Homo sapiens: one gene and its partners. The protein of the gene in region 1 interacts with the protein of each later gene in a pairwise test. Each region holds a gene or a part of one and is shown in the gene's direction. Other genes may lie near its edges.

What was found. The genes of interacting proteins can lie anywhere in the genome.
Region 2: the proteins of FAM131C (region 1) and MAD1L1 interact in a two-hybrid assay, tested with the Homo sapiens proteins (one large-scale study listed by BioGRID and IntAct).
Region 3: the proteins of FAM131C (region 1) and EWSR1 interact in a two-hybrid assay, tested with the Homo sapiens proteins (one large-scale study listed by BioGRID and IntAct).
Region 4: the proteins of FAM131C (region 1) and HPCAL4 interact in binary tests that used the Homo sapiens proteins (3 or more experiments, as listed by UniProt).

Annotation. Positions count from the first base shown.
Region 1 is NC_000001.11:16,063,505-16,067,417, reverse strand, and holds part of FAM131C (protein FAM131C), read left to right. Parts: intron 1-3,781; coding exon 3,782-3,897; intron 3,898-3,913.
Region 2 is NC_000007.14:1,816,884-1,820,796, reverse strand, and holds part of MAD1L1 (mitotic spindle assembly checkpoint protein MAD1), read left to right. Parts: intron 1-3,913. UniProt on the Homo sapiens protein: Component of the spindle-assembly checkpoint that prevents the onset of anaphase until all chromosomes are properly aligned at the metaphase plate.
Region 3 is NC_000022.11:29,277,917-29,281,829, forward strand, and holds part of EWSR1 (RNA-binding protein EWS), read left to right. Parts: intron 1-113; coding exon 114-300; intron 301-3,913. UniProt on the Homo sapiens protein: Binds to ssRNA containing the consensus sequence 5'-AGGUAA-3'. Might normally function as a transcriptional repressor. EWS-fusion-proteins (EFPS) may play a role in the tumorigenic process.
Region 4 is NC_000001.11:39,684,872-39,688,784, reverse strand, and holds part of HPCAL4 (hippocalcin-like protein 4), read left to right. Parts: intron 1-3,913. UniProt on the Homo sapiens protein: May be involved in the calcium-dependent regulation of rhodopsin phosphorylation.

The DNA of each region.
Region 1 (3,913 bases):
GAGGGAGCCACAGGAGCAGGTGCTAGCGGTCCCTTCGGGCTGCCTCCCAGCCCCCACCCCACATGACACTCTGTGTTTTTCCAGTTGCCAGTGGTGACGTGACCACCAGTCCCAGCTGGGCGAAGAACAGCCTGTGATTTCACCCTGGGCTGGTTCATTACCTGACGTCCCCATGGCAACCAGCCTGTGACATCATGGGGCCAAAGTCCTCAGGGGGAGCAGGCAGCTTTGGTGGAGGCACCTGAACCCCAACTGAGGTGGGGAGCCAGGCGGGCTGGGGAGGGGGTGGGAGCCAGGAGTCCTCCAAGCCCACCACCGTCTCAACAAATGACCTTGTTCAAGTCATGCCTCTGCCAGGCTTTGGCATCACCACCAGCCTCCTCTGTGCCCGGCTCCCCTCCCCATCAACCTCGCTCCCTGGTCTGTGGCTGGAGAGTTGTAAAAAAGCTTCAGGGGATGGCCAGGGGTCCTAGAAATACCCTAACACCTCTCAAGTTCCTAGGGTCAGCCTATGGCCAGAGCCACCTGTCTGCACCTTGGCGGGCCCTGGCTTGTACAGGACATGCAGAATTTCCAGAACCTCAGGATTGGCAACTTGCAAACTTTTTTGACTGGACCCATAGGAATAATATATTTTGCATCATGACCCAGAATACACACAGAGAAAATTTTTACTCTGTGTGTGTTGTGCACACACATCTGCACAGACTTGTGTTTGCATAAACAGAAGCTTCATAAAGTAATACTTAACCTGACTTGCAGTGGGCTCTGATATTTTCCATTCTATTCCATTCTATTTCATTAAAATAAGACCTAATTAATAAACGGCTGCATGACCCACTGAAATATGCACCCCCAGTTTGAACATTGCCTTTGAAGGGCCTGGACAACATGGCCTTTGTGGAAATGGAGGCCTTGGAGCCCAGAGAGGGGCAGGACTAGCTCAGGGTCACACAGCAGGGACTCAGGAAAAAGAACAAGATGAGCTGAGTGCTATGGTGTGCAGGCGCACGGCTCAGTCCACAGGATCCCGTGCTGCCCCAGGTGCTCTCACCTCCTTAGGCCTGCCTGGGTCATGGGTGGGGTGGTCAATAAGATCTTTCCTTGGCTCCAGTCTCTGCCTCCAGCCTCCTTGACTAGCCCACCTGCTTACCTTTGGGTGGATCCCAGAAACCTACGGTCTCTTCTGCAAACTAAGTCTAATCCAGTTGGGATGAAAACTTGAATCTCAGGCTGGGCGTGGTGGCTCATGCCTGTAATCCCAGCACTTTGGAAGGCCGAGGCAGGCGGATCGCCTGAGGTCAGGTGTTTGAGACCAGCCTGGCCAACATGGTGAAACCCTGTCTCTACTGGAAATATAAAAATGAGCAGGTGCCCATAATCCCAGCTACTCAGGAGGCTGAGGCAGGAGAATCGCTTGAATCTGGGAGGCGGAGGTTAGAGTGAGTCGAGATCACGCCACTGTACTCCAGCCTGGGTGACAGAGCGAGATTCTGTCTCCAAAAAAAAAAGAAAAGAAAACCTTAATCTCACCTCCAACTGAATGCTTACCTTCCCCCTGCCAGCTGCCCCTGAAATGAGGATTTGGGTACAACTGATATGAGGTGAACCTTCCAGAGGAAGCCAGTAGGGAATGGAGCGAGAGGAGGATGGAGGAGGCCAGCCAGGCAGTGGGGTGGTCTCAGGCCTGGCCTCAGCCTGGTCCTGCAGGGTACTCCGGAGGGTAAGTGAAGGGGAATTTTCGGATCCCAGACAAAAGAGCTGGGGTTCTGCACCTGGTAGTCATTGGCTTGGGGCCACTCTGGGTGGGGCCAACAGAAATTTACCTAGGGCAGCCCCTGTAGAAAGAGCCACAGGTGGTGCCTCTTAGAAGCCATGCAGGGCGCCAGGGCAAAAACAGGAGAAAGGAATCCAGGGGAATTGGGGGCAGCACCCACATGGTCCCCTAACCCCAGTGACACAATCTGGCCTAGAGCATTAAGTCCCTCCGCTGGCGGGCAGAGAGTGAGCGCAGGGACCATTGTCTTCCAGGGAGGGAGGATGCCTGCAGCAGGGGAGCCCTGGGAGAAGGGAGCCGGGAGACCTGGAATAGACCTAAGAGAGGGCTAACAGGATTTGCCGGTTGACTGCGTGGCCCCGGGGAGAGTGGGGGAAGGCAGGACCCTGAGAAACTCCCAGGGTTGTAGTTGGTGCAGTGGGGGATGGGGGGAAGGTGGACCTGGAATTGGGAATCCTCTTTTGCCCAGGTGTGCTTGGGGTGCCCCTTGGGCATCCATGTGGAGAGCTGGAAACTCAGTTGGGAGCTCAAGTGAGGAGTCAGGGCTGGAGGTGTGCACATGGGCAGCGGGCAGCGGAAACAGGAAGGTGAGACCTCCTGGGGAGAGAGGGTGGAGAAGGGCCAGGACAGAAGTGTGCCAGCCAACGGGCAGGGGTGAGCCAGGGAGGAGCCAAAGAGGGGACCCAGGACAGCAGCCAGAGAGGCCAGAGGCCAGGATAAGAGCGAGGCTCAAGAGGGCAGGAAGGCTGCACAGCTCCAGCTCCAAGAAGAGGCTGGAGCAGCCCCCATTGGAGTTGGCCCCACGGATTTTCCTGGCAGCTTGGCAAGGGCTGCCTCATGAAAGCCTGCTTGGAATGGGTGGAGGAGAAGTGGAGGACGAGGAAGTAGATGTGGGACACAGCTCTCTGCACGTCCAGCGAGAAGGGAGCAGAGGAACGGCCAAGTCGCTGGAAGGAAACAGTGGTCACAAGCTTCTGAGAAGACAGGAGATGCTTGGGTTGCCAGGATGCTGACGGCCCCACCCAGTGGTAAAGGGGACAGAGGAGTGAGAATGCAGGAGAAGGTCCAGAGCCCAAGACACATCGCAGCATATGAGATCCCGGCTGAATGCTTCAAAGTGGACAGAGTGGAGAGGGCACAGTGACACCGCAGGAGGGAGAGCAGAGCCTCTGGGGGGAGGGCAGGGGCAGGACCCAGCCCTGGGTGGATGGGCCAGAAGGTCTTGGGTGCAGCAGGAACAGCTCTTCCTTTGTTGCAGGAGGGAAAGGCGATGATGTGGGCAAAGGTGCAGGCAGGCTCTGGTGATTTGGGTGGAAAGATCCAGGTGACACCTTTCCAAGGATCCTGGACCCAGTGAGGGAGGGGCAGAAGCCCCCAGCAGTGTGTGGGGTAGGGGAGGGGGTGTGTTTCATGTCTGAGAAGGAAGGATGGGGTGAAGCTGTCAACCTGGCAGGAAACAAAGACAGCAGGAAATGCAGAAACAGAGAAGGATCCGGGCAGCGTCCCACGGGAGGCTGGGGCTACAATCTCGCATGCAGCGGTCACTTTCTCCAGCAACATTCAGCTCCTCAGATCCAGGCACAGGGCAGGAGGGTCAGACCCAAACCGGGGTGAGAGGTAAGGGCGTCTGTGAGAGAGAGCTCAGAGGCCATGCCAGGGTGTCAGCCGGGCCAGGAGCAAAAGAGGACGGGAGGATCTAGTCTGGAAATATGAGGGTAAATGGATTAAAGATCTCCACGAGGCCAAAATCATGCTGGAGTGTGGGTGCTAGAAACTGAGAAAAGGGAGTAAAAAGAAGATGAGGCCAGTAATTCCCGCTGAGGGGCACAGGCAGGAGGGCATCTGGCTGGACCCCTTCCCTGCTGTGGACTTGAGTCTGCTTTCTCTACGATGTTGTTGGATAAAAACAAGGCCATACTCACCTTACGGGGGGGCCTTGAACATGCTTTGTAAGCAAGAGAGGGCTGGGCTTTGCTGAGTTCCTCCTCTTGCTCTTATTTCCAGACCTGTTCACAAGTGCCCACAAGAACTGCCCCATGCCCCAGGGTGCGGACCCCTTGAACCCAGATCTGCCCTCGGGCCGCACTCCCACCGTGGCTCCAGACTGTGTCATTGGCAAGGTAACTGGCTGCTCCT
Region 2 (3,913 bases), on another chromosome or scaffold:
AGTTTTGCCAGGGGTTTATCAATTTATCGTTGCTGGTCTTTCTAACAAATTTTTGAGACAGGGTTTCACTCTGTTGCCCAGGCTGGAGTGCAGTGGTGTGATCATAGCTCACTACAGCCTCAAACTCCTAGGCCCACGTGATCCCACATACCTGGGGCTACAGGTGTATGCCACCACACCTGGCTGATTGATTATAGGGATGGGGTCTCACTGTGTTGTCCAGGCTGGTCTCAAACTCCAGGGCTCAAGTGATCCTCTCACCTTGGCCTCCCAAAGTGCAAAGATTACAGGTGTGAGCCCTGCTCCTGGCCGGCCTTATTGCTATTTTTTAAAGAAGCAGTTTTTGGTTTTAATAACTTTTGTTTTCCTGTTCATTCCTACTTGTATTATTTCCTCCTCCTGCTTCGGGCTTGTTTTTCCCTTCGTTTCTTGAAGTAGGAATTTAGAGAAGCGATTTGAGATCTTTCTCCTTTCCTGATACAGGCATTGAGTGCTGTCCGTTTCCCTCTAAGCACTGCCTTGGGTGCGTCTGGCAAATTTCATTATGCTGTATTCTTGTTTCCATTCTGTTCTCTTTTTTATTTCCTTCGAGGCATCCCATTTGACTCGTGGATTACTTAGAAGTGTGCTGTTTAATTTCCAGGCACTTACAGTTTTCCTGTTGTCTTTCTCTGACTGGTTTCTGGTTTTGATGTCCACTGGTGTGGCCTCCACCTCTTCACGCCACCCCACAGATGAACAGCATTCACATAACTTCCCAGTATCTCGAAGTAGCATCGTTTCCATTTCCTGCGTGTCTTCTCATTTTACTGCATTATTTCAGCTTTCCTTGTTTGAGCCAGGATTCAGGGCTTCCTTCATTCCATCTCTAGCTTCCTCCCCTCGAGTTTCCCAGTTCATGGAGTTTCTCTTGGACCCTCAGCAGCAGGGGGTCTTGTTCTTGACAGGAATCCCTCACACTTCCCCCTTGGCCTCCGAGCCCCACCACATCCTGCGGTTGGTGGTGTGTGGAGAAAGTGGTGTGTGGAGAGAGTTGGTGGTGTGCGCTGTCTCTGCTCTCCAAGCCCTTTGTCAGCCCCCACCCCTCCCTCACTCCGTGCCTCTTGTCCGTGCCCGCTGGGACACCATGGGGCTCGGCTCAGGGGATGGTGGGACCAGCGCTTAGTAAGACTAGTCAGCCCTAGGCACCGAGTGAGCACTGCTCACGTGGCAGAGCTGGAATGGGGGCCGGGCACACAATCCCTGGCCCACGTGTTCCACGGACATGCTGCAGAGGTCCCCGGCCCTCCAGGGCAGGCCCTCTCTGCTTCCAGAGGGGCAGGTGAGCCCCAGGCCAGGCCAGCGAGGGTCTGGACTAGAGTGCAGTGGCCACAATGGACGCCGCGAGTGTCTTCATTAAGAGTGAGTGTCTCAGTCTCCCCCAGGGCGCCCGCCAGCCACAGGGCCGCTATGTGCGCAGACTAGACAGGTGGCAGCTCGGGCCGGCCAGGCAGAGGGAGAGGAAGCCAGAGCCTGCGCGCAGGCAGCCTCAGAAGTATTTCCAGCCACAGCCAACGTGTCTTACTGGCAATTTGCTTTTTAAAAAATTGCAGTTTAATTTTAAGTGAGCAGCCCGTAATTACAGTGATTTACGAGGTACCTGGGGACTGTGTGATATTTGAACATGGCAGAGGGCTGAGCAGCGATGGCAGAGATGGATGGGCCCGGCGCCACTCATTCAGCAGGTCCTGCTAATGCCGGAGCGTTAGACCGAGGTGGAGCCTCCCAATGTGGCTGGGTACGCTGGGGGAAACGGAGTCAGAGGTGGGCTGCACAGCAGGTCGACTTGTTCACCGGGGGCTGGTGTTTTGCAAACGCTGGGTCTGCCTTCGTGTGGGGTTTGAGCTGGGAGAGTAGCACTGGTTACTCCTGCCTGTCTCCGTCCACCCCCACCCCCACCTGGAGGGCAGCGCGGTATATTAGGGCATCATTCTTCCAGAGCCGCCTGAGGCCGGCAGAGAGGAGGTGCTGTAGGAGCCGTGAGTGGGTTGCCCGGCCTACCATTGGGAGCAGCTGTCTTGCTGACGCTGGCGGGGTGCACCTGTTTCAAATAAAGAATGATCAGAGCTCACGCCTGTAATCCTCACGTCGTGGGCAGCTGAGGCAGGAGGATCACGTCAGGCCAGGAGTTTGAGACCAGCCAGGCCAGGAGTTTGAGACCAGCCTGGGCAAAATAGCTAAAGTCTATCTATCTCTCAAAAAAATTTAAAAATTAGCCAGGTGTGCTGGCACATGCCTGTCATTCCAACTGCTCAGGAGGCTGAGGTGGATCACTTGAGTCCGGGAGCTCGAGGCTGAGTGACCCGTTATCATGCCACTGCACTCCAGCCTGGGTGACAGAGTGAGACTCGTCTCTAAAAAAAAATATTTTTAGAAATGAACGGCCAGGCTCCCAAAGCCTGCCAGCCTCTGAGGGCCGGGGAAGGCGGGTGCCTGGAAAACAGCTATTCTCTGGTCCAGCCTGGCCAGAGTCTGCACCACAGTGCGTCAGGCCCAGCCAGGTTGCCAGCCCTGGGTTGGGAGGAGGGCGAAGGGCCGGCTGAGGAGACTTCTTCCCACACTGCCTCCCCACCCCTGCCCGGCAGCTGCAGGAGAATCAGCCCCTCTGACATTTAGGGGGAGAAATTCAGAATCAAGAGCAGAAGGCAGAAGTGAAAGGATTTTCTCAGCGAAAGGTCAGAGTGGTTTCTCTTGTTTTTGTTTAAAAATGGTTTGTGTTGAACTATGACAAGGCCAAATGTACTAAGGCAGCAGAAACAGGGGGAGGGCAGGGGGAGGGCACGGGGACGGCTCCTGAGAAACAGGAGGTGCAGGAACAGGTCAGGTCGCAGGGCCTCTGGGGCAGCACGTGCTCCAAAGGTGGTGAGGGGAGGGGCGACACCATCAGGGCGGGGCCCAGCCCAGGCATGCTCCGGTGGACAGGGGAGCTGCCAGGACCAAGCTGGATGGAGCCAGGCCGCCCTGTGGCTCCTGGGGAGGGTTCCCAGAGGGCTGCCGGGCGGAGGGAGCGCTTTCCAAAACGGTTTCCTGAGCTCCGATGCACACACATGCAGCTCACCCTCACGTCTAGCGCTCCATTAGTCTACCGTTCCGTTCCTCCCGGCACATTCAGTGCGCAGCCGCGACCAGTCTAACCGTGGCACATTTCCACTGGCCCTGAGCCCTGACGTGCCCCTCCAGGACATCCCCTGGGCACGGAGTTGTGTCGACAGGTCTCTGTGACTGGCTGGGCGTGTTTTCGGGGTTTGCCCGCGTGGCAGCGTGTATCAGAGTTCGGCTGTACGAAGCGGTGTTGACGGGTAAACCCGGTTTTGTGTCTCCCTCCGGCGGTTGAGGGCTGGTTCCGCGTTCCATCTGTTGGTGATGGGATCGTGTTGCCGTGGACACCCGTGCCGAGGTCTGTGCGTGGACTGCGCTCAGACCCCCTGGCTGCGCGCCCGGGCGGGTGCTGGGCCCATGGACTCTGCGTCCAGCTCTTTGAGGAGCTGCCGGCTGTTTGCAGTGGCCGCACCACACACGCTCCCGCCAGCGACGCGGAGGGTCTGATTCCCCTCGACCCAGCAGCTCATGGTGGTTGCTCTCAGTGGCCGTCGGCGCGAGGCGGCTCCGTGTCTCGCTCAGTTGCGGTTCACGTTTCCCCGGTGCCCAGCGTCCTGGCATGAGCTCATTGGCCGTGTGTGGCTCTTCTCTGGAGAAATGTTCAAGGGCCCCTTGTTTAATTGGCTCTTTCCTCTTCATGGTGGAGTTGTGGGAGTTCTGGGCATATTCTGGGTACAGGACTTTTCAGGGACGTGGTTTCAGAGGGAGCTTTGTGGTGGGCCGGGTTTGTGTCCTGCCTGACCTGGGGCTGTGTGGGTGCTGACCGGGGTGGGGC
Region 3 (3,913 bases), on another chromosome or scaffold:
GATTCAATATCCTGATGGTTTAAAGTAAGTGGTTTACAAATTGTTCTGATAATGAGTGTCTAGGCAGATCTCTGAGGGGACCTGAAATCTGATGCAGCTCTCCTTTGTTCTAGGTTATACTACTCCAACTGCCCCCCAGGCATACAGCCAGCCTGTCCAGGGGTATGGCACTGGTGCTTATGATACCACCACTGCTACAGTCACCACCACCCAGGCCTCCTATGCAGCTCAGTCTGCATATGGCACTCAGCCTGCTTATCCAGCCTATGGGCAGCAGCCAGCAGCCACTGCACCTACAAGGTAAGGCCATGGTGTCCTTAATGCGTCAGTCTTATGTTGGAGGGAAAGAAAGCAACTGTGTACACTTAAAATAATCTGTGGTTTAGTTCCTTATTAGTGGTTGCTTTCATATACTCTCAGATGTTCACTGTTAGTAACTGATGTGCTAGAACATACCACAGAAATATTCTGCATTTAACAGTGAAATTGGCTGGGCGCGGTTTCTCATGCCTGTAATTCTAGCTCTTTGGGAGGCCGAGGCGGGCGGATCATATAAGGTCAGGAGTTTGAAACCAGCCTGGCCAACATGGGTGAAACCCCGTCTCTACTAAAAATGCAAAAATACCGGGGGGGCGCAGTGGCTCACGCCTGTAATCCCAGCACTTTGGGAGGCCGAGGCAGGGGGATCACAAGGTCAGGAGATCGAGACCATCCTGGCTAACACGGTGAAACCCCGGCTCTGCTGAAAAATACAAAAAATTAGCCGGGCATGGTGGTGGGTGCCTGTCGTCCCAGCTACTCGGGAGGCTGAGGCAGGAGAATGTCATGAACCCGAGAGGCGGAGCTTGCAGTGAGCTGAGATCGCTCCACTGCACTCCAGCCTGGGAGACATAGCAAGACTCGGTCTCAAAAAAAAAAAAATAGAAAAATTAGCTGGGCGTGGTGGCGCACACCTGTAATCCCAGCTACTGGGGAGGCTGAGGCAGGAGAATTACTTGAACCTGGGAGATGGAGGTTACAGTGAGCTAAGATGGCACCATTGTACTCTAGCCTGGGCGACAGAGGAAGACTTCACCTCAAAAAAAAAAAAAAGTGAAATGGTGCTATCGAAGGGTCAAAATGAGGAATGGCACTGAATAGGTTCTCTGGTTTCAGAATGACCTTTTAGGGTAGGAGAAGGCTATTGTTTTTAAACCCAGAAGAAGAGAGAGAGAGAGTGTGTGTGTGTGTGTTTTCACTCAAAACAGCATAACTGATAGAATTGTACTTTTGAATTGTACTTTTGATGCTTTTATCTTTGATTTCATTGACCCTGTAAATGGGTAACCGCTTTCTCTTTGGCAAAAACATGGTAGTTCACACAGGCAGGAGGGGAAGGGAGCATCATGTGAGTCAAGAAATGGTCGTATGACCTAATTGTCTGGAAAGGACATAACCATATTCAAGAAATCAAACATTACTGTCTCGGCTTAAGCAATTGACATGACTTCCCTACATTGTATAGAGGCTTAATCTAAATATTATAGGCAAATAAAAATTCTTAACTGGGTACCCTGCTATAGGATGAGCAGAGCTCATACCCCATGACTGGTTAGCAGGTAAACAGTATAATTATTACTTAACAAAAGATTTTAGATCTTTGCTTTAGGCAGTCACTTAACTGGCTTGTGTATACAGTCTTGAAAGGACATTGAATTCTGGTTTGAAAGAAGACATTTTAGGAAATCAACTTCTAACCTAGATATATCTGCTCTAGAGGTAAGAAATTAGCTCTGACAAACACTCGTGAAATTACTTTTAAAATGCACAGTGAGTAATCGGAGCCGCTTGGCAATTTACCCTTGGTAGACCACCTTTGCAGTAGCTAAGTTAAACTTAGTGGCTTATTCCTGAAAGGCCTCATTTCCGAGTGTCATCAGATGTATGAAGTCCCATTTGATACTCTGATGCAACAGTATATCCAAGCCATATCTGGAGGGTTTTATATATGAATTGGGTTTTGATAAGTCATCCTTTTTTTTTCTTTTCACTTGTTACCACTTTAAAACAGCTGTCTGTCTCATAATCAGTGGCAACTGCTTTTTCGACTGGAAAAGGGTATGGGACCTATTTCAGCTCAGGAAAAGTTAGTACTTCACACCCTCTCTGGTTTTTCTGGGTTGGTTGGTTGGTTGGTTGGTTTTTGAGATGGAGTGTTGCTCTGTTGTCCAGGCTGGAGTGCAGTGGCGAGTGCACCCACCACCCAGGTTCAAGCAATTCTCCTGGCTTAGCTTCCCGAGTAGCTGGGACTACGGGCATGTACCACCATGCCCGGCTAATTTTTGTATTTTTAGTAGAGGCAAGGTTTCACTATGTTGGCCAGGCTGGTCTCGAACTCGTGACCTCAAGTGATCCGCCTGCCTTGGCCTCCCAAAGTGCTGGGATTACAGGTGTGAGCCACCGCACCCGGCCTGCCTGTTGATTCTTTGGACTTTGCTTAAAATATTAATAGCTCTAACTCAGTCTGCTGCAGCCTTGATGTAAAGTGTTAGGGCCAAGAGGTAATAGAAACCCCTGGAGTTTTCCTTGGAACTGAGATTAATTTTCGTCATTTAACAGGGATACTTACTTCCAGGTTCATCTGAGCAGGGACTTGGGAGGGGTCTCTTTGCCTTACTCTGGTGTTTCCATTACGGAGACTTTGAGCCAAGTTAGATTAGTTTATGGCAGCCCAGTTTAGGAAATGATTTTTTTCTGGTTGGTTGGATGGTTTGGTTGGTTTTTTTTTTTTTTTTAAGATGGAGTTTTGCTCTTGTTGTCCAGGCTAGAGTGCGATGGCACAATCTCGGCTCGCTGGAGCCTCCGCCTCCGGGGTTCAAGTGATTCTCCTGCCTCAGCCTCCTGAGTAGCTGGGATTACAGGTGCCCGCCACTCTGCCCAGCTAATTTTGTGTGTGTGTGTGTGTTGTTTTTTTTTTTTTTTTTTTTTTTTTTTTTTTTTTTTTGACAGAGTCTTGCTCCGTCGCCCAGGCTGGAGTGCAGTGGCGCCATCTCAGCTCACTGCAAGCTCCGCCTCCCAGGTTCATGCCATTCTCCTACCTCAGCCTCCCAAGTAGCTGGGACTACAGGCACCCACCATGATGCCTGGCTAATTTTTTGTATTTTTAGTAGAGACAGGGTTTCACTGTGTTTGCCAGGATAGTCTCGATCTCCTGACCTCGTGATCCTCCTGTCTCAGCCTCCCAAAGTTCTGGGATTATAGGTGTGAACCACCGCTACCAGCCAATTTTTTGTATTTCTAGTAGAGACGGGGTTTCTCCATGTTGGCCAGGCTGGTGTCCAACTCCTGACATCATGCAATCCACCTGCCTTGGCCTCCCAAAGTGCTGGGATTATAGGCATGAGCCACCGCACCTGGCAGTTTGTTTTTTTTGAGATGGAGTCTCTCTGTTGCCCAGGATGGAGTACGCGATCTAACAGCTCACTGCAGCCTTCACCTCCCATGCCCCAGCAGTCCCTCCCACCTCAGTCTTCCAAGTAGCTGAGACCACAGGCATGTACCACCATACCTGGCTAATATTTTTCTATTTCTGTAGAGGTGGGGTCTCCCTATATTACCAGGCTGGTCTGAAACTCCTGGGCTCAAACCATCCTCCTGCCTCAGCCTCCCAAAGTGCTGGGATTTTTTTTGTTTGTTTGTTTTTGAGACGGAGTCTTGCTCTGTCGCCCAGGCTGGAGTGCAGTGGCGCGATCTCGGCTCACTGCCAGCTCCGCCTCCTGGGTTCACGCCATTCTCCTGCCTCAGCTTCCTGAGTAGCTGGGACTACAGGCGCCCACCACCATGCCTGGCTAATTTTTTTTTTTGTATTTTTAGTAGAGACAGGGTTTCACTGTCTTAGCCAGGATGGTCTCAATCTGCTGACCTCGTGATCCGC
Region 4 (3,913 bases), about 24 Mb from region 1:
AAATAGCTTAGCAAAGAGGTGAGGCGTGTCTGGCTGTGAGAAGGCTGGCTTGAGAGGAGTATGCGGTGGTGAGTGAGCAATGAGAGCTGAGGCGAGATAGGTGGGCACTTTGAGACCAGATTCTAGAGGATTCTAGAGTTTCAGGGGGCCCATGGGCATGGCTACTTCTAGTCTATATTGTAACTTTCGGGGGGAAAAAGCCATTCCCTCCTAACAGAGGAATCAAAAGAAAGGCACTTCCTGCCAGGCAGGGAAGCCCCATGGGCATGAGCATAGCTTGATTTCAGCCCCCTCGGCTGTGTCCCTGGCTATGGACATAATGAAGGTACCAAGAGCATTTCAAAATAAGAGACAACAGGACTTGATGGCAAGTTAGACCTAGGGCAAAGGGAAGGGAAAAAATGAAGGTAACTAAGATTGTGTTCCCCACACCCCGGGGATGAGGGAGAGAAGGAAGGGGCAACAGAGACAGTCTGACCATCTCTGGTTGGGAGCGAGTCTGGCTGTAGACTTGCTGTCTCAGAGGTGCTGGTGGACACCCCTAGGGTGGCTATCTCCTGGGTGTCAGAGATTGTGGCCCCAGATGGTTCCACTGCGGCCAAAAGGGAGATCAGAGCTCTGATTTTCCCAGAGGGCAGATGTGGGTGGAGAAGGTCTGTGCTGAACAAGAGTAGCCATGATTTGGAGACGGTGGCCCAGGCAGGTAGCACGGATTCAGCCTGAGTGCTCATCTGGGCCCTCCCACTGACCTGCTGTGTAACCCTGAGCCAGTTTTCTCCTATCTCTCAATTTCCATTTTCACTGAAATAAGGGGATGATCTTAAAGGGCACGGCCAGTTTTGACCTTCTTTTCTTAATTTTTTATTTACTTATTTTTTTTTTGAGACAGGGTCTTGCTCTGTTGCCCAGGCTCGAGTGCAGTGGCTCAATCACGGCTCACTGCAGCCTCAACCTCCTGGGCTCAAGTGATCCTCCCACCTCAGCTTCTGAGCAGCTGGGACTACAGGCACATGCTACCATGTCTGGCTAATTTTTAAATTTTATGTAGAAACAGGGTTTCCTTATCTTGCCCAGGCTCAGCTTTGACCTTCTGATGATCTAGAGGGAATGAGGAGAAATAAAGGAGGAGGCATAGTCTGGGTCTGAGACCCAATAAAAGCAGGGAACAGGAAGGACCCTAGGAGACAGAGAATTGTGGAGAAGGCAGCACAGAGCAGGGAGGAGAAAAGGGGTATAAGGTGAGAGCCACACAGACACTGTGACACACACAGAGAGACGTGTGCACTCTGACAGATTTGCAGCCTCAGACATTGACATGCTCCCACACACAGACCCAGCCCCTCATGCTGACTCTCAGGCACATCCTACGGAAGACAGCTGGAGAGGCTGTGCCTCCCCCCATCAGACATCTCTGCCTGACTTCTCCAGCTTCCTTGACTATACCCTGAGCCTTGAGAGTCCTTTGGATTTGGGAGAGGGGTGAGGCCTGCCTCCTTTTGCCTATGGGTGTTCCAGAGGCATCCTTGCTCTGGCCTCAGTGTAGCCATTTTCCGCCCAGCCTCAGGTTCCTGAAGATGGCATGCTCCCCCTCCCTGGCTTTTCCTGAGGGCATACAATTCCTCATCCTCTGGGAGTGGGGAAGGATGTTGCTACCTGCACTGCTCCTTGGTCTTCCTTATGGCCCAGTGGAGGAATCTGAGGCCCAGAGAGGATCTGTAACTAGCCTGAGGTCAGCCCAGCAAAGGGGAGTGGGAAGGAATGGACCAACCTCAGATTTGCTATTTAGTGTTTTCCCAGTTGTAAGAATTAGAAGCCCACTGGCAGACATCGGGCTATGGGAGTGGAATTCCTTCTGCCAGCCCAAGGGCTTCCTTTTCCAGAGTATCTTGAGGACAGGCTACCTGGGGTGGGAGCCTGACCCTCTTCCAAAGAGACTCTAGGCAGGTCAGAGGCACCTCCCAAGCCATGTCCTGGGAAACCCAGACTCTGCAGGGACATTCCTCCCAGGGAGGTCAGAGAGGAGGGTCCACTCTGCCTTCAAGGTCTGGCCACACTTCCTGAGGAGGGCCTGTACCTCTTCAAACACTTCCCCTGGCACAGCCCACTTACGGGCTCACATTCCCACTGGGGAATAACTCTTGATCCTTCCCAAACCTGCTTCTCAGCAACAACACTTCTATCCACTGAGGCTCAAATCTGAGCCTCTGCCTCAACTCCTCTGTTCCTCTTACTCCCACATCCAATCAACTGCAAAGTCCTGCCAGTGCCCTTCTTAACGTCTCAGCCCATCCACGTCTCTCCACGACCCTTACTCTGGCAGCATTGTCTCTCACCTGAACCGTGTAGCAGGCCCCTCCCTGCTCTACCTACCTGCCCCCACCAAAGGTCATCTTGCATGCTGTGGCCAAAGGAAAAATTCTTTTTTTTCTTTTTTGAGACAGGGCCTTTCTTTATCGCCCAGGCTGTAGTACAGTGGTGCCATCTCAGCTCACTGCAACCCCTGCCTCCCAGGCTCAAGTGATCCTCCCATCTTAGCCTCCCAAGTATCTGGGACTACAGGCATGCACCACCACACTCAGTGAATTTTTTTTTTTTTTTTTTTTTGAGACGGAGTCTCACTCTGTCGCCCAGGCTGGAGTGCAGTGGAGCGATCTCGGCTCACCGCAAGCTCCGCCTCTGGGGTTGATGCCATTCTCCTGCCTCAGCCTCCCAAGTAGCTGGGACTACTGGCGCCCGCCACCATGCCTGGCTAATTTTTTGTATTTTTAGTAGAGATGGGGTTTCACTGTGTTAGCCAGGATGGTCTTGATCTCCTGACCTCGTGATCCACCTGCCTCAGCCTCTCAAAGTGCTGGGATTACAGGCGTGAGCCACTGCGCCCGGCCAATATATTTTTTTTTTTTTTGAGGTGGAGTCTCACTGTGTCACCCAGGTTGGAGTGCAGTGGCGCGATCTCAGCTCACTGCATGCTCTCCCTCCTGGGTTGACGCCATTCTCCTGCCTCAGCCTCCCGAGTAGCTGGGACTACAGGCGCCTGCCACGACGCCCAGCTAATTTTTTTGTATTTGTAGTAGAGACAGGGTTTCACCGTGTTAGCCAGGATGGTCTTGATCACCTGACTTCGTGATCCACCCACCTTGGCCTCCCAAAGTGCTGGGATTACAGGTGTGAGCCACCGTGCCCGGCCGCGCCCAGCCAAATTTTTAAATTTTTTGTAGAGACTAGGTGTCACTGTATTGCCTAGGCTGGTCTCAAACTCCTGGCCTCAAGCTGTCCTCTCATCTCAGCCTCCCAAGGTACTGGGATTATAGGCATGAAATACGGTGCCCAGCCTGGAAAAATTTTAAAACACATACCTTTTCTTGGGTCCCCAGTGACTCGTTCAAGACTGGGTATATCATAAGCATTCTGTAAATATTGTGGAATGAATGCAATCTTCCCAGCCCTTGTTTTAAAAAATCCCAGGAGCGTCTGTTCCCTCCAATTTCTTGGCATGGATTGGAGGCCCTTTGTAACCAACCATCTGCCTCTTTGACCCAGTTACAAGTTATTGAAGGTTGGCTCATGTCTGCTTCATCTCCATCACTGGCACAGGGCCTAGCACACAGTCAGTCTCAATAAATGCTCAGGGAATGAATGGATTAATGAAAAGCCAAATGTCAGTAGAGGATTTCTATTTGTATAGAGGAAAGAGGGAGAGAAGCTCCCTGCTGGGGTGGCCCAAGAAAGCCTTGAGGAAGAAATTGGGAGACAGTGCCAAGGGGACACACAAGGAACCTACCTTGGGTCCCTTCTCAGGACAGAAGCCTGCCAAGGAGGGTGGGGGCTGACTTCAGAAAGCCCTAAATGGCAAGGAGAGGAGTCAAGGCCTTAGTCTGTGGGCAGGGGAGCCATGAAAGGTGTGAGCAGGAGG